Regions from separate parts of the Homo sapiens genome. Here region 1 is linked to region 2. The links come from fine-mapping of genetic effects on gene expression. A gene starts in region 2. The other region holds a variant in brackets. All regions are shown on one strand. Distances are between the middles of the regions. Region 1 overlaps KCNS3 (potassium voltage-gated channel modifier subfamily S member 3). Region 2 holds the start of KCNS3 (potassium voltage-gated channel modifier subfamily S member 3).

Evidence for each region. PIP is the estimated chance that this variant, and not a neighbour inherited with it, causes the effect. A credible set is the group of variants that fine-mapping cannot tell apart.
Region 1: its variant is the best candidate, but not a certain one, in a credible set for the expression of KCNS3 in aorta (GTEx, PIP 0.58).

Annotation. Positions count from the first base shown.
Region 1 is chr2:17,904,178-17,913,448 of GRCh38, reverse strand. The region is part of intron 1 of KCNS3 (potassium voltage-gated channel modifier subfamily S member 3); the gene reads right to left. Among named protein-coding and RNA genes, the nearest start is that of KCNS3, 30 kb to the right of the region's middle. The variant G/A (reference allele first, on the strand shown) is at 5,102.
Region 2 is chr2:17,874,181-17,883,451 of GRCh38, reverse strand. KCNS3 (potassium voltage-gated channel modifier subfamily S member 3) reads right to left here and starts at 4,785. Exons shown (of 3, transcript NM_002252.5): 1 at 4,646-4,785. LOC124907737 (a long non-coding RNA gene) reads left to right here and starts at 6,890. Exons shown (of 2, transcript XR_007086226.1): 1 at 6,890-8,087. RefSeq lists silencers at 4,665-4,714, 4,805-5,004, 5,015-5,174.

The DNA.
Region 1 (9,271 bases), 30 kb before region 2:
ATGATATACTGTGCATATGCACTAATCTAGTTTCAGATCTATAGCCTGCTGCAGCTTTCTGCAGGTAGGCTATTCAGCCTGCTGAATACGCCCACTCCTGACCGAAGTTCCAACCTTGTGGAGACTAATTGGTGTCCCTGGAAAAAATGCAAATTCATGTCAGTTTTGTAGTCTTGCTACCATACATCAACGACAGACCTACTTTTAATAAAATCTGAGAGCAATAAAATTATATGAATAATAACAAAAGGTGAAATCCAACCCTACCTCTATCTGGCTTAACTATTGAAAACTGTCACCCAGTGTTTAATTAAATAAAATTAAAATATCATAATCATACTGCCATAATTGGATTTAGTGTGCTAGAAAAAAAATGTACTGATATTTAAATCCTATAATCCAAAGCAATCAGAATCAAACATCTTCCAGTTGATTCAGACAGGGCATGACTAAGAATATCCCTCCACTACTAACTCTGTCCAAATTTAACTGTCAAATTTCAAGAAGTACCTTAAGTTAATATGGCAAATCCTTGAATTAACATGATTTTTAAAAATCTGTCCCTAAAAGAAAATGAAAACTTCTCAGGGTCTAATATATTCAGGGACAAACCAGTAAGTGCTTTCTAAAGCAAAGTCTCTAAATTATTTTTGAAAGGTTAGTATAAATTATATTTTTCTTGGTCATTCAGAGTGAGTAAATGCCATACCAACTGCAGGAATCCCAAGACTTGATGCATGGGTAACTAAATACCACCTTCCTTTCCTCCTGCTCTATGTTTCTAGACAACCTCCCCCTGGGGAATGGAGGGGAGGCAGCAGGGACGCAGCTGTGTTGCCTTGGCAAGAAAATCTAGAGAAAGGAAAGGAGAGACAGGCAGACCAGGCGCTTCCCTGCGGAAGGGTGTGCACCTCATAGAAGGAAGTACAACACAGTCACTGAGTGTTGACAGGGCTCTAGGGTCACTCTGAGTGGTCCATGCAACTGCTCCTGGCCACAGAAAGGAACTGCACTGGCTCCATCCACCTTGTAGTCATCTCCCTACCGCATGGCTAGCTGGAGACAGAGGCTAGGGCTGTCCCATTTGAATGCATCAAACAACTGCACTAACACAGGCCGATAAAGAGGAACTGAAAGCAAGCAGCTTTGGAGTGAGCAGGAAAGTATCATACAATGATAGCAGTGAAAACTTCTTAAAGAAACCTTTCTGGAGGACATCATAGCAATGTGTATCACAAAATCCCAGGGTTTCACATTTTGGCATGTGTCCTGAAGAAATAAATCAGACAAGCGTTGAAAGATGCATGTACAAGGTTGTTCACTGCATCATTATTTGTAAGAGTGAAATGTCAAAGACAGCCTGCACGTCCATCAATAGAGGAATGATTAAATAGACTGGGGGTAGCCATGCAATGAATACTCTGTAGCCATTAAAAATGCTGAAATAATAAAAGTTACAGAAGTTACAGCTTCCTTATACTAAGTCTGGCCCTGTGCTTTTTACATGTCTAAATCCATTTAATCCTTGCAGCACTCAGACAAGTGGTGTTTTTATTGCATTCGTTTTGCAGATGGAGAAACTGGTAAATAGAGAAGTTAACTGATTTTAGGGAGTCAACAGCTATTAAGTGACAACTCCATGATTCGAATCCAAACAATAATTCTTCAAAGCCATTCTCTTAGCTACTACAGCTCTACTGCATGTAAAACCATTAAAAAGTCACAATATGCTAAGTACAAAAGAGAAATAATTATGACGCAATATATAGCATGATCCTATCTTTGTAAAATATGTCTTTTTAGAGTAAATGAGAATATATACCAAAATGTTAAATTCATTGTCTCTGGATAATGGAATTTGGAGTGATTTTGCTTTCTACTCTCTACATCTCAACATTGTGTACATTTCTTACTTTAAATAAATAGGTATTATAAAATATTTATGAAAATAGTTATTTCTACATAGAAAAATAAAAGGTCATAAGCAGCTCCAGTCAGCATCTGGGCAGAGGAAAAGGGGAATGAGATAGATATCAAATGAACTTATAGATTCACATGAGAAAGGATCCCCAGCCCCCAGCCAAAGCCCTCCACTATCCTGAGCTAATGCTATTCATTCATGGCTGCTTTATGACAGGCAGTATCCTGGGAACTACCAAGGACAAAAGATAACATGGATCTTGCCCTCAAAGCTTACAGGAGCTGAGAAGAACAAAAAGGAGGGTAAATGGGTAAATAAATAACGGCAATACAAGGTCCAGTAGTATGTCAGGCATGGGAAAAGGTACAGAGACGGTATTGAGGAAGTTCAGAAGAGGTAGAGTCCCTCGAGATAAGGAAGCGGGGACAGCTACATGAATAGGTAGTATTTGGAGATAATCCTTGAAGAGCGAGTCAGGTATGAACAAGTAAAGGAGCCAGGTAAGGGTAAGAAGGCTCTTCTCCAAGGAGAGAAAAGAACACATACAAAAGCATGGTGGCAGGAAAGCTCGTGGTATGGACAGAGAGCAGAAAATGGTAGACTTGGGCTATAGGAAGTAGCCTATGACCTAGAGCTATTTATACAGATTATTTCTTTTAAAATATGAAGAATTCTGCCTGTACTATCCACATCTTTGTGAATTAGGAATACCAAAGTAAGAGATGTCTATGGGAGAGGAGAATGGATTGATTGCCTGTGGCCACACAGAGAATCTGCGGCTACAAAAGGACCACACCTCGGGCCTCCTGAAAGATTTAGCCACAAGGAACCAATCAGAGACTATAAAGACCTCTTGGAGTTACTGCTCTTCCTAGAACATTTAAAAAAAAAAAAAGTAGACACTTCCACTGGGTGTGCCAATCCACCAAGAATCCCAGTGATCTGAAATGGCAAGCAGTGAATTCCAGTAGTGCCAACTGATATGCTGACAACAACAGAAACAGCAACATTTCATTACTTCATCCCTCTCCTCTTTTGTATTCCATTTAAACTGTTCACCTAAGAGTTAGAGTAGGGGGTCTGTGTTGAAATTCAGGAGGTCCTTGAATTTAGACAGAAAAAAATATTTATTTTCACCAATCTCTAACTAAAATTTTAGCAATTCCTTCCATTAAAAATGCAGGCATTGGCCCAGGGTAGTGTGTATTAGCAGTGCCAATGACTTCACACCAATAGAAGTATGAATAGCTTCATATCCTATCAGAGTTATTGAAGAGATCTCAAAATATCATTTATACTCATTATTACTTTGGAATCACAGTAGTTATAGACCTACTGCTAGATTTTATTTAAAGAATTAATAAGCAAATATATTGCTAACTCATAAATTGCTTTTACTATTTTGGTAATTGCATTTCAACATAACTGGATTCCTTTACATCCTGTAGGTTTCATCTTTTGTGTTTAAACACGCTATTCTGAAAAGGGGTCCATAGGGTTTCTCAGACTCCCAAAGGGGTTCATGGCAAAAGGAAGGATTAAGAATCCTTTAGCTAGAGATCCTGTTAAAATGTGCATCACATCATGTCCCTCCTATGTTCAACCCTCCAGTGGCTTCCATCCTACTCAGAGTCAAAGTGCCCACCATCCACCCTCCCCTAACTTCATTTGTCTGATCTTACCTCCTACTCCTCTCACCCTCTATCATTCCCATCTGTCATCCTGGTCTCCTTGCTAATGCTTATCATGCCAAGTGAGCCATATCCTAATTCAGGGCCTCTGCAGTGGCTGAACCCTCTGCCTGGAATGCTCTTTCTTCTGCATGGCTTGCCCTCTCACTTCCCTCAAGTCTTCACTCAAATGATATCTTCTCAACAAGAACATCCTCAGTTAGCCTATCTAAAATGTCAATAACCCGAGGTGGGGCAGTTCCAAGATGGCTGAATAGGAACAGCTCCGGTCTACAGCTCCCAGCATGAGCAACGCAGAAGACGAGTGATTTCTGCATTTCCAACTGAGGTACCGGGTTCATCTCACTGGGGCTCGTCAGACAGTGGGGGCAGGACAGTGGGTGCAGCCTACCGAGTGTGAGCCGAAGCAGGGCAAGGCATTGCCTCACCTGGGAAGAACAAAGGGTCAGGGAATTCCCTTTCCTAGCTAAGGTAAGGGGTGACAGATGGCACCTGGAAAATCAGGTCACTCCCACCCTAATACCGCACTTTTCCAACGGTCTTAGCAAACAGCACACCAGGAGATTATATCCCATGCATGGCTTGGAGGGTCCCACGCCCACGGAGCCTCACTCATTGCTAGCACAGCAGTCTGAGATAGAACTGCAAGGTGGCAGCGAGGCTGGGGGAGGGGCGCCCGCCATTGCTGAGGCTTGAGTAGGTAAACAAAGCAGCCCAGAAGCTCGAACTGGGTGGAGCCCACTGCAGCTCAAGGAGGCCTGCCTGCCTCTGTAGACTCCACCTCTGGGGCGGGCATAGCCAAACAAAAGGCAGCAGAAACCTCTGCAGACTTAAATGTCCCTGTCTGACAGCTTTGAAGGGAGTAGTGGTTCTCCCAGTACAGAGTTTGAGATCTGAGAATGGACAGACTGCCTCCTCAAGTGAGTCCCTGACCCCCGAGCAGCCTATCTGGGAGGCACCCCCCAGTAGGGGCAGACTGACACTTCACACGGCCGGGTACCCCTCTGAGACAAAGCTTCCAGAGGAACGATCAGGCAGCAACATTTGCTGTTCAGCAATATTCGCTGTTCTGCAGCCTCCACGGCTGATACCCAGGCAAATAGGGTCTGGAGTGGACCTCTAGCAAACTCCAACAGACCTGCAGCTGAGGGTCCTGACTGCTAGACGGAAAACTAACAAACAGAAAGGACATCCACACCAAAACCCCATCTGTACGTCACCATTATCAAAGACCAAAGGTAGATAAAACCACAAAGATGGGGAAAAAACAGAGCAGAAAAACTGAAAATTCTAAAAATCAGAGTACCTCTCCCCCTCCATAGGGATGCAGCTCCACGCCAGCAACGGAACAAAGCTGGATGGAGAATGTCTTTGACGAGTTGAGAAAAGAAGGCTTCAGACGATCAAACTTCTCCGAGCTAAAGGAGGAAGTTCGAACCCATGGCAAAGAAGCTAAAAACCTTGAAAAAAGATTAGAAGAATGGCTAAC[G/A]AGAATAATCGGGGTAGAGAAGTCCTTAAATGACCTGACGGAGCTGAAAACCATGGCACGAGAACTACATGACGAATGCACAAGCTTCAGTAGCCGATTCAATCAACTGGAAGAAAGGGTATCAGTGATTGAAGATTAAATGAATGAAATGAAGTGAGAAGAGAAGTTTAGAGAAAAAAGAGTAAAGAGAAATGAACAAAGCCTCCAAGAAATATGGGACTATGTGAAAAGACCAAATCTACGTCTGATTGGTGTACCTAAAAGTGACGGGGAGAATGGAACCAAGTTCGAAAACACTCTGCAGGATATTATCCAGGAGAACATCCCCAACCCAGAAAGGTAGGCCAACATTCAAATTCAGGAAATACAGAGAATGCCACAAAGATACTCCTCGAGAAGAGCAACTCCAAGACACACAATTGTCAGATCCACCAAAGTTGAAATGAAGGAAAAAATGTTAAGGGCAGCCAGAGAGAAAGGTCGGGTTGCCCACAAAGGGAAACCCATCAGACTAACAGCGGATCTCTTAGCAGAAACTCTACAACCCAGAAGAGAGTGGGGGCCAATATTCAACATTCTTAAGGAAAAGAATTTTCAACCCAGAATTTCATATCCAGCCAAACTAAGCTTCTTAAGCGAAGGAGAAATAAAATCCTTTACAGACAAGCAAATGCTGAGAGATTTTGTCACCACCAGGCCTGCCTTACAAGAGCTCCTGAAGGAAGCACTAAACATGGAAAGGAACAACCAGTACCAGCCACTGCAAAAACATGACAAATTGTAAAGATCATCGATGCTAGGAATAAACTGCATCAACTAACGAGCAAAATAACCAGCTAACATCATAAGGAGTGGATCAAATTCACACATAACAATATTAACCTTAAATGTAAATGGGCTAAATGTTCCAATTAAAAGACACAGACTGGCAAATTGGACAAAGAGTCAAGACCCATCAGTGCGCTGTATTCAGGAGACCCATCTCACGTGCAGAGACACACATAGGCTCAAAATAAAGGGATGGAGGAAGATCTACCAAGCAAATGGAAAGCAAAAGAAACCAGTGGTTGCAATCCTAGTCTCTGATAAAACAGACTTTAAACCAACAAAGATCAAAAGAGACAAAGAAGGCCATTACATAATGGTAAAAGGATCAATTCAACAAGAAGAGCTAACTATCTTAAATATATATGCACCCAATATAGGAGCACCCAGATTCATAAAGCAAGTCCTTAGAGATCTACAAAGAGACTTAGACTCCCACACACTAATAATGGGAGACTTTAACACCCCACTGTCAACATTAGACAGATCAACGAGACAGAAAGTTAACAAGGATATCCAGGAATTGAACTCAGCTCTGCACCAAGCAGACCCAATAGACATCTACAGCACTCTACACCACATATCAACAGAACATACATTCTTCGCAGCACCACATCACACTTATTCCAAAATTGACCACATAGTTGGAAGTAAAGGACTCCTCAGCAAATGTAAGAGAACAGAAATTATAACAAACAGTCTCTCAGACCACAGTGCAATCAAACTAGAACTCAGGATTAAGAAACTCACTCAAAACCACTCAACTACATGGAAACTGAACAACCTGCTCCTGAATGACTACTGGGTACATAATGAAATGAAGGCAGAAATAAAGATGTTCTTTGAAACCAATGAGAACAACGACACAACATACCAGAATCTCTGGGACATTTAAAGCAGTGTGTAGAGGGAAATTTACAGCACTAAATGCCCACAAGAGAAAGCAGGAAACATCTAAAACTGACAACCTAACATCACAATTAAAAGAACTAGAGAAGCAAGAGCAAACACATTCAAAAGCTAGCAGAAGGCAAGAAATAACTAAGATCACAGAAGAACTGAAGGAGATAGAGACACAAAAAACCCTTCAAAAAATCAATGAATCCAGGAGCTGGTTTTTTGAAAAGATCAACAAAATAGATAGACCGCTAGCAAGACTAATAAAGAAGAAAAGAGAGAAGAATCAAATAGACACAATAAAAAGTGACAAAGGGGATATCACCACCGATCCCACAGAAATACAAACTAGTATCAGAGAATACTATAAACATCTCTATGCAAATAAACTAGAAAATCTAGAAGAAATGGATAAATTCCTGGACACATACACCCTCCCAAGATTAAACCACGAAGAAGTTGAATCCCTGAATAGACCAATAACAGGCTCTGAAATTGAGGCAATAATTAATAGCCTACCAACCAAAAAAAGTCCAGGACCAGACGGATTCACAGCCGAATTCATCAGAGGTACAAGGAGGAGCTGGTACCATTCCTTCTGAAACTATTCCAATCAATAGAAAAAGAGGGAATCCTCCCTAACTCATCTTATCAGGCCAGCATCATCATGATACCAAAGCCTGGCAGAGACACAACAAAAAAAGAGAATTTTAGACCAATATCCTTGATGAACATCGATGCAAAAATCCTCAATAAAATACGGGCAAACCAAATCCAGCAGCACATCAAAAAGCTTACCCACCATGATCAAGTGGGCTTCATCCCTGGGATGCAAGACTGGTTCAACATATGCAAATCAATAAACGTAATCCAGCATATAAACAGAACCAAAGACAAAAGCCACATGATTATCTCAATAGATGCAGAAAAGGCCTTTGACAAAATTCAACAGCCCTTCATGCTAAAAACTCTCAATAAATTAGGCATTGATGAGATGTATCTCAAAATAATAAGAGCTATTTATGACAAACCCACAGCCAATATCATACTGAATGGGCAAAAACTGGAAGCATTCCCTTTGAAAACTGGCACAAGACAGGGATGCCCTCTCTCACCACTCCTATTCAACATAGTGTTGGAAATTCTGGCCAGGGCAATCAGGCAGGAGAAAGAAATAAAGGGTATTCAATTAGGAAAAGAGGAAGTCAAATTGTCCCTGTTTGCAGATGACATGATTGTATATTTAGAAAACCCCATCATCTCAGCCCAAAATCTCCTTAAGCTGATAAGCAACTTCAGCAAAGTCTCAGGATACAAAATCAATGTGCAAAAATCGCAAGCATTCTTATACACCAATAACAGACAAACAGAGAGCCAAATCATGAGTGAAGTCCCATTCGCACTTGCTTCAAAGAGAATAAAATACCTAGGAATCCAACTTACAAGGGATGTGAAGGACCTCTTCAAGGAGAACTACAAACTACTGCTCAATGAAATAAAAGAGGATACAAACAAATGGAAGAACATTCCATGCTCATGGATAGGAAGAATCATTATTGTGAAAATGGCCACACTGCCCAAGGTAATTTATAGATTCAATGCCATCCCCATCAAGCTACCAATGACTTTCTTCACAGAATTGGAAAAAACTACTTTAAAGTTCATATGGAACCAAAAAAGAGCCCGCATTACCAAGACAATCCTAAGCCCAAAGAACAAAGCTGGAGGCATCACGCTACCTGACTTCAAACTATACTACAAGGCTACAGTAACCAAAACAGCATGGTACTGGTACCAAAACAGAGATATAGACCAATGGAACAGAACAGAGCCCTCAGAAATAATACCACACATCTACGACCATCTGATCTTTGACAAACCTGACAAAAAGAAGAAATGCGGAAAGGATTCCCTATTTAATAAATGGTGCTGGGAAAACTGGCTAGCCATATGTAGAAAGCTGGAACTGGATCCCTTCCTTACATCTTATACAAAAATTAATTCAAGATGGATTAAAGACTTAAATGTTAGACCTAAAACCATAAAAACCCTAGAGGAAAACCTAGGCAATACCATTCAGGACATAGGCATGGGCAAGGACTTCATGTCTAAAACACCAAAAGCAATGGCAACAAAAGCCAAAATTGACAAATGGGATCTAATTAAACTAAAGAGCTTCTGCACAGCAAAAGAAACTACCATCAGAGTGAACAGGCAACCTACAGAATGGGAGAACATTTTTGCAATCTACTCATCTGACAAAGGGCTAATATCCAGAATATACAAAGAACTCCAACAAATTTACAAGAAAAAAACAAACAACCCCATCAACAAGTGGGCGAAGGATATGAACAGACACTTCTCAAAAGAAGACATTTATGCAGCCAAAAGACACATGAAAAAATGCTCATCATCCCTGGCTATCAGAGAAATACAAATCAAAACCAC
Region 2 (9,271 bases):
TGGTTTGTTTAATGCCTGTCTCCCTCCCACTTCTCACCCCACCCCACCCCACCCCAACCCCCCACCGTTTCCTTTACCACAGTATACCCAGCACCTAGCATAGTACATAACATCATGTAAGTACTCAAATACTTGTTGAATGAATGTATGCACGGATTTGAATATATAATGAGAATACATATATGTGACTATATAAGTTAATCATTATGTCACCTTTGGTGAGCATCTGGTAAGTCCTCGGATGGCTGATTAGTAGAATACTCAGCAAGATACTTCATTCATTTGGCACTTCACCAAACTCACTGAGGCTGGCTGCTGCCAACATTAACTGCTTAACTGTAACATTATTGGCTAAAAGCAGATCTTATGCCTTTATCGTTCAATACTTGTGCAACTGAAGACAATATTTATACAGTATCTCCTCAAAGCAAATCGTAGTGCAAGGCTGTGCAGGATTCCAAAGAGAATGAGACCTCTTGCCCACAAGAAAAATACCACAACCTAGCCTAGTAACTATTTTAGCTTATTAAAGAGTTTACTTTTATAATGTGTAGATTTTGATCCTCTTAACAACTGTGAAAAAAAAGTATAATGTGCAGATATGCTAAAAAGTTTCAAAAGATGATCTAGAGAAATGATAAAGAAAAACAGGGATGAAAATTCTAAATCAGTTTCTACATTTTGTTGTACATTTTAAGCCTTGTTATTATGTTCATGATAATTGAGTATTCACTCCAGGCTTCACAAAACAGCAGGCCCCTGAAACAATAAAACAACAACACTCTTCTCCTCTTTCTCCTCCTCCCCAGCTTGTACTTACTCCCCATCCCCTGCCTCCAATAAGCACCCACAGTAGTCAAGACCAGCAAGCAAAGGCCAGGTCCAGGATGAAATTCAAACTCAGTTCCCCACTCCCCAAGGACTCTCGATAGCTCACTCCCTCCTGTTCTGCTCTCTAGCTCCAGAGAGAAGTGAGGCAGAAAGATGCTGGACTTAAAGTCAGAAGACCCCTGACTGTGTCCAAGTTCAAGGCTCAGTTTGCCTTAATTTCTTCATCAGCAATATGGGCTTCCTAACTTCTGTCCCACCTATAGCTTATAACTCTCAGTTGCTCTGAGGACTGGAATGAGATATCCCATGTGAAAGTTCCTACAAACCACAATAGGTTATACAAATGTGACCGAGTCATTGTGATTTTTATCAGGACTTAAACATTTAGCATCTTGTATTGTTCTATCTTGTCTCACTGATCTGGAGTCTCCAGATCCACTATAAGTTCAAGCTCAGAGACCATGTCATAGATTCTGCCTACCTTCATTGCCTGTAGTACTGGGCACTTAGCACCCATACAATAAGCACTTGTGAATTGGTCACTGGTTGATTTACTTGACAAATTTGCGTCGGAGTACAAAGTGTTCTGTGGTTTTTCTGAATTTCTTATATTGATAAACACATTTTCTGAAACTCACCATAATGTTTCCCTGGCCCATGATCTTTATGGTTTATCTTCCTTTTTTCCTAACCAGCTGGGCAGAATTTCACCGAAAAGCAGACCATTTTGTCAAAGGCAAAAATAATATTTTGCTAACGCAGTCTTTGAGATTCCTTTTAAGGCTGAGACATGGGACCCAAAAGTCACTTGGTAACTGTAAGCCCCCTCTGTCACTGTTCAACAAATGTAGTCCGAGATCCCACTAAGCACAGGGAACAGTGTTGGAACTGTAGGAATAAATGAGGAAAACTGAATCTCACAGTGGCTCTGCAGTCAGACTGCAAGGGATAGAATCCTAGCTTCACCTTTTCCGGGCTGGGTGACCTTGTACAAGTTACTCAGTTTGTCTCTCTTTCCTCCTGTAAAATACGGTGATAATAGAACCTACCATCCTAAGATTGTCATCAGGATGAAGTGAGTTCATACATGTAAAAGCTTTTAGCTTTTAGTGCCTAGTACAGCGTAACAACAAATATTAGAGATCTAGGTCAGTGCAGCTAAACAGACCAAGACCCAGATTAGCAAAATGACATGTCAAGTCAAGGAGCCATAAAGAAATAGATATCACAGCTGGAAACTGGGTCCCCACATCCTATTCTCTTCTCTATGATGTTTCTTTGTGGGTATTTCACACAGGTGGCACTCTGGAAGATGCACTTTCCTGACACCTGATAAGCAGAGTCAATAAACACACCCACCTTCTCTGCTTCAACATACCCTGCAGAGTCGTCCTTCCTCCTAGTGAGACCTCAGGCCCACCATTTCCCACTGGCCTCCCATCTGACTCAACATGCACCTGGGGGGTTCCATCTACTGCTGGCTCCCACAGCAATACTGCAGTGAAGAAAGCAAGCATCACATCCTCATGCAGTTGTTATGGGAATTAAATGAGATAATGCCTGGAAAAGTGCCTAGCAGAGTATCTGATATATAGTATGCAGCTAATAAATGTTATCTATTAAAAAATAGAAGGAAAAGGAGGAGGAAAACCCTGTGGTGCCTACTCTCTCAAAGCTGACACACATTCCAATGGCAAATGCCAGACACAGGGCAGATTGAGATGGGTGGTAGAACAGAGGGATGCACGTCTGTGAAGAATTACAGTGAAGGGCAAAACCCACTGAAGACAGGAGGGAGCTGCAGTTCCCACTCTCCCCCTTCCTTCTTAAAAGAAGATGATGATACTCAGTTGGTGCTTTGCTGGCAAACTCAAGCTCCAGAGCTTTGGATTTTTAATATTATAATATTTCAGAACAGAACAAAGACTGCTTCTGACCTCCCAATTTGCCCTCATACACTTGACCAGCAAAACCTTAGCGTAGCTGCATTCATCAATGGCTCTATTCAGGCAATTATGGGTCAGACAAAAGATTCAATTAATACTGATCCCGCAAGTCTCCTTAGTATATTCACAACATGCTTTGGATTCAGAGTTCTATGGCACCTTCATATGACCTTCTCCGGATCCCAATATTGACAATTCCTAGTTCAGAAACGACAAACATAATATTAGAACAAGAGAAGAAGGGAAGCTGGTGAGAAAGAAAGAACAGACTAGACTGGGTGCAGAAATTATATCATCCATTTGCTGTCTGTCCCCGAGTGCATCCTGGGGCCTGGCCCATGGCGGGCTGGTTGGAAATGCATACTGAACGAGTCAATCTCCTCAAGAAGGTCACCACCCAGGTAAGAAGTGGAGCCTGCACATTACACCAAGTTCAGCTAGAGAATCAAAGCCACCTCTTCGGCTCCAGATATGCAGGGAAGACAAAGCACGAGGGCATATGCCTTCAGCTAAGAGATAGGTGCGTGCTTCCTGTTTACCTGGGCAGGTATTTGCAAATAGTCTAAGAAGGGGGGCAACTAGGAGTGACTTACACAGTTCCAAGTGAATGGTTACGCAAATCGCTTGAGTAAATACAGGGAAAGAAACAGGAAAGGCTTCTGAACTGTTTGTACTCATCTGCTCCAGTATTTTCAGAGGGTAGGGTGAAAGACAAAAAACCCGAACGAAGGCTCCGGGCCAACCACAAAGCTACTCTCCGGCAGGAACGTAAGGAACACCTACCGCCCCTCCCCCCACTTCACGCCTTGGCACCAAACCAGGGCCCCTGGGTCATTTTGGCAGGTGGAGGTAGCTCTTTGCTGTCCTCTGCCCCTGCTGCGGGCCACCCGAGTGAAGCTTTCGGCTCGGTCTCCCCAGACAAAACCGGGGGGAGACATCAAGAATGCAAAAGGTGCTCCTTTCTCCAAATGAACGAGAAGGGACAGAGCGGGGTTGGGGGTGCAGGACAAGCCCTGCAATGCGAAAGGCGCCCAGCCAGGCTCGCCGCGGCCCCTGCCGGCAAGACTGGCTCGCTTGCTAGCCAAGGTGCCTCAGGAGGTCGGGCAGCCACCCAGAAAGGCGCGAAAAAAAAAAGAGGAGTTCCTGACCCCGGGGTGACCCTTCCCCACCACTGCCACTGATCCAAACGCAGAGTCCGCAAGTGACTCCACACCTGCGCTGCAAGCCTCACGCCGTCCCCACCCAGGGCGCAGCGCTGCACGAGAGCAAGGGCCCTGGGTTCGCTCTTCCCTGCAACTGTCGCGGGGCGCCTAGCACAGCTGCAGGGCAAAGGGGAGGGGAGGAATGACAAAGAAGGCGGAGCAGACGGCCCGGGAAGCATTTACAAGCGCCAGGAAAGCGCCTCCTCTCGAGGAAGGGAAGGAACGGCTTCCCGGCCAAGGAAACGCCCCGGGGATGCCCCTACGCGAGGTGCCGCCTTTCTTCGGCTCATCGATTCTCCCGCCTCCAGGTGGTCCTCCCCCTGACCATAGCCCACCCCACTCCCCGAAAGCTGATCCTAAATACCTTCCCCGAGGCTTTCAAATCAACCCAGCCACCGCTTCAACAGCCCGCAGTTCACGCAACAGGCGGAGCCTTAGGGCTCCAGCGACGGCGGGCTCTGGGGACCAGAGGATGCGGGCGCCGCGGGCCAGACGCCCAGAAGGACGGAAAGTGCTCTGCGGCCGTAGACCCTCGGGGTCGTGCACCCGCGACCTGGACCACAGGAGACTGGGGCAGCAAAAGGTGGGGGAAGGCGCGGTAAAGTTGCAGGGTCGCCCGGAGAAGTCTCCGGAGCGCGCAGGGAGGTGGGGACGCCAGCCAGGTACCTGCAGGAGTCCGGACGCATCCAGCTAGCTCCGCTCTGCGACGCCGCCTGCCCGCGCTGCAGGGATCAGGCCTCGCGGCGCGGCCCCGCGCCTGCCGCCGCGGCGGCGAGGAGAGCGGGGTGGCCCGCGTCGGCCGGTCTGTCCGTCGGTCCCGCCCCGCTAGAGCGAGGCTCCCGGGAGCTGCGGGCGGGGCGGGGCCGGACGGGACGGGGCGGGGCCCGCCGCTCGGCCGCCGCCCCATTGGTCGCAGCTCCGCCAGCCCCTCGCTTCGGGCCCGCAGCCGGGCGCCCCGGGCCGAGGGCGCGGGCGGCTGAGGACTGCGGGGCTCCGACCGCCAGACAGGCGGACAGACCCATAGACCTAGATGCTGCCCTGCCGGCCGCGCGCCCCCGCCCAGGCCCAAGTGCAGAGTCACCCCGGAGCGGCAGGCGCTGTCCGGGTGGGACCAGGAGCGCGCCCCGCGCCTCCCACCTGCGCGCCCTCCTGGGCCGGAAGCGCCGTGGCCCTGCGGGAAAAAGATGACCTCCCCCGCGGCCCCGGCGGCTGGGGCAACCGCCTTTCTAAAGTCGCGGCCCAAGCGACACTTTGCTAATTTGCCTGGATTTCCTCAGGAAATCGCGAGGCCCAAACTTGTTTTAAAACAAAGTGCGAAGGAGAGTACATATAGCTCCAGTTCCTGCCAATGTTTGCCATCGGTCCCGCTGCCTGAAGACTCAGGCACAGTGCAGAACAAGATGCTTTGTCTTATTCCTCCACTCACCGAGTCAGAAGAGGTGCTTGGACATTTGCACCAAGCAGATGCGCCTCATATGTAGAAGAGGAACCAGTCGGGTCCCCTTTCGGAAGGACGAATGGAAGAGGAAGTCAGGGGACGATGCCTTCAGCCGACGTTGAGGAACAAACCAGGACCTCGGCGAGGACAGCGTGTGGTCCAGAAGGCATCGCTGGCCTCGCTGCACTGAGCGAGAGCGCTCAGTTAACAGCCAGGAGGAGAAATGGGACGCTTCGGGACCCACCCCCGCGCTCCCCCTCCCGCCCCCAAACTGCAGATTTTTAAGTTGTGCAGACGTGGAACAATTCCTCGGAGCCAGCTGCTCCAAGCTAAGGCGCCCAGTGTTCCCTGGGTTCCTACCCGCAGCATACGCCCTGCCAGCTGCCCCCAAGCCAGCACCCGCTGACCACTCACCTCAGGCAAGCACCTAGGAAGACGATGCAGATTCAAGCTCCAGACCTTGAGCCAAGCGCTGGGGAGGGAATGGGGGCAAAGAGATGGTGGAAAACACTTTCCTGAACTTACTGAATACCCTATGTTATGTGTGGGTTTTCTAATTGTTCTTTGCTTAATGAAAAACCCACGTTGGAAATCAGAAAAAGGCAGTAATCCTCACCGTATCTTGTGGGCTTCAAAGAGGAGGTTTTCCCCTTAAAGGGAGTTTTGGTCCAGAGGAGAGGCTAACAGCAGGCAGGAAGGGCAGAGGAAAAGATAAAGCCTAGGGTGGTCTTCCCCCTGAGGCCTGGAGCCCACCAAGCTCCAACAGTTTCATTTGGCTTCTGGGAAGCAAAGTACAGATGCATGTGTCTGCAGAGCACTGTTCTGAGCCATTTGTCCCTAATTCCATGGTTCTTTGGTTCCTCCAATCTTGTCTCCTCTCCTGTGGAAGAGGATCCAAAGCATTGGTCCACACTGCTATTTACAAGTGGCTGAAGAAGGTAACTTTCTTACATAGTTCATCTTTAGCATAAGCTCTAAGATTGTTCTAAAAATATATTTACATTTTATCAACACCTTAGAAGAATGCTTCCAGATCTCTCCCAGCAGTTACCTATTTAATCATTTTAAAATCACTAAGTTTATCCAAAAAGTCCAGCATGGTTTACTTGAGAAGGAAATATGTTCAGAATCTCTAAGCACTGCAGAAGGCACCTGCAGTGCAGAAGAGTTGGCAGTGAGGTCTTTCTCCTGGGGTCTGGGCGGAACATGTGAGCAGTCGGGAAGGCACACACAGTGGGAGCCAGTAAGGGCCCCTGTGCATCTGCAGGAGCTGAGGACAGAAGGGGTGGGCCTCCACGGTGGGCATGTAGGAGTGGGCACAGAGAAGGGCCACAGATCTGAGACAGAGACAGACAGGACTTCTTACCCTGCTGAGCCCTGCAGGGAGCCACTTCGTCTTTCAGCCCTGATTTTGTCATCTGTAAGGAAATTTCCTCTCTCCCAGGGTAATCATGTGAAGCCAATGAAATAATAAAAAGGACCACATCGGATGACCCCTGAGGCAGGTCTGCTCCCCAAAAGTTTACTCTTGAATGTTGACCAAGGTTGAGCTAGGCAAAGTGGTAAATTCACACACACGGTATGTAGCCCCTTCCCCAACCCCAGTCTCCATTACCGGGGGCATGCTGTGAACTAACTGCCTCCTTTTCCCCACACACCCACTTCCTGCCCAGTCTTTATGCCTCCCGATATGACATCCCGTTCCCTCTTAATTAACTGTGCCTATAGAGAAACATCTAGATAAACCATGCATTTAATCTGTGAGGGGTCAATCATTTAATCATCGTTGACAATAATGCTCACTCCTCTGTGGTTTCAGAGGACTCCTGGAGTGGATGGAGACACATGCCACTAATGTGGGATGCATTTCAGTCTGTCTTCCAGGCCTCGTTTGGAGGTCTCCCTCTCTTACCCACCTATCACACATCCATGTCTTCCCTTCCCTCCCCAGAGCCAAACCTGTCCCCGACTTTTTATTCTCACTAAAGTTCAAATGACAGAAATCAGCTAGATTAGTACTTGCCTTAGTCCTGAAGGAAAGGGAAGTGCTCATTAGCTTCTTAAATTGGAACAGGTCTGCAGGTGAAAATGAAGATGTGCTCATCTCTGGCAGGAAGGTTGGGAGTGAGGGGTATAGTCATAATGAGCAGCGTTTATTTGGTGTGTGCCTCTCACTTGCCACTTTCTACCCAGCTGCCTGAATATCACTCCAGTTAGTCTGAGCACATGAAACACCTGCAACTCCCCAGACCCACCATGCTTTTTCTTGACTCTCTGAATGCACAGCAGTGCCTCCTCAGCTAAGAACACAGTTCCCCATCACCAAGCTTTGCTTTGCCCAACAGACCCCTTCTCCCTTAGGATGAGATTCAGTGGATAATCACATCATAATCACGACCCTCTGGGAAGCCGCCTCTCTCATCCTGGGTTGTGTGTTGTGTGTTTCCTTTCCACACTCCCTCAGCAGCCTTTGCCTCCCACTTTCATAGAATCTACCATATGGGATTTTAACTGTTTGTCTTCCACTAGACAATAAGCTCCTTGAAGACTGAATTTCCAGGAACTTCTGTTGGATCTGCATGTTTGTGAAGTGAATTACTGAAGGCTGCCCAGTTTCATCTGATCCTAGTCAAAACCTAAATCCCTTATTTCTACGCTACCTTTTGCCAGGTAAAAATAAAACATGTAAACCATCATATCGCTGTCTTTGCTTGGCTGCCAGGAAGCTCAGAACTAAATTTACATTAAATTAAATTTAGTTCTCAATCAGCTAGAATGTTTTTATTTCAGATTATTGCTACAATGATCATGCTCTTTTCACAAAATTATTGTATGCTTACTCTAACTGCCCTGTGGTATTATTTTTATATCAAAAGTTTCTTAAGGCCGGGTGCAGTGGCTCACATCTGTAATCCTAGCACTTTGGAAGGCCAAGGCGGGTAGATTGCTTGAGTCCAGGAGTTCAAGACCAGCCTTGGCAATATGGCAAAACCCTGCCTATATAACAAATACAAAAATTATCCAGGCATGGTGGTGCATGCCTGTAGTCCCAGCTAGTTGGGAGGCTGAGGCAGGAGGATTATTTGAACCTGGGATGTGGAGGTTGCAGTGAGCAGAGATGGTGCCATTGCCCTCCAGCCTGGGTGACAGAGAGAGACCCTGTCTAAAAAAAAAAGAAAAAGAAAAGAAAAAGAAAAATTCCTTAAATCTTTATGATCTTCAAGTACAAAGACTTGAATTCTGATTCAGCTCTGTCCCTGATTACCTCAGTGATATTTCCTCTTGGGCCCTACATTTGGGTTGGGACTATATCATCTTTAAGGCCCTTGCCAGGTCTAAAAGCTTTATGTTTCTATAGATAAAAGGAGACACTTTATAAATTATTAAAGAAAGAAAAAACCCTGTGACAGGCTATGTCTCCAGGCACAAAGGAATGCTGTCCTCAGGTACTCAGAATCACCCTCTGAAGGCCCTTGAGTATTGCCCAAGGTGAGTGCCACAGAACACCTGTGCCTGACCCTAGGCACGGAAAGGAAGGTGTTTACTCCATCACACTGGCAGGTCCTCATAACACTCTAGTATAGGAAAGGCTCTGTCTGAGAAGTTAGCCCATGAAAATATTTCCAGGGATGGCCTTCCAGATTGCTCATACTCTGGTCACAACTTGATTTTTTACCACATTTCAAGCTCTTCACACCTTTCTCTCTGCCTTACTCATTCATCACCACCTCCCCTCCCCTCTCCTCTGCACTTTCCTCACATTCCAGCCCGACAGAAGTGGCCCATCTCTCCTCTATGCTCACTGCATGCCATCTGAGTCTTGCCTTTCTGGTGCCTCGTTCCTATAGTGTTTC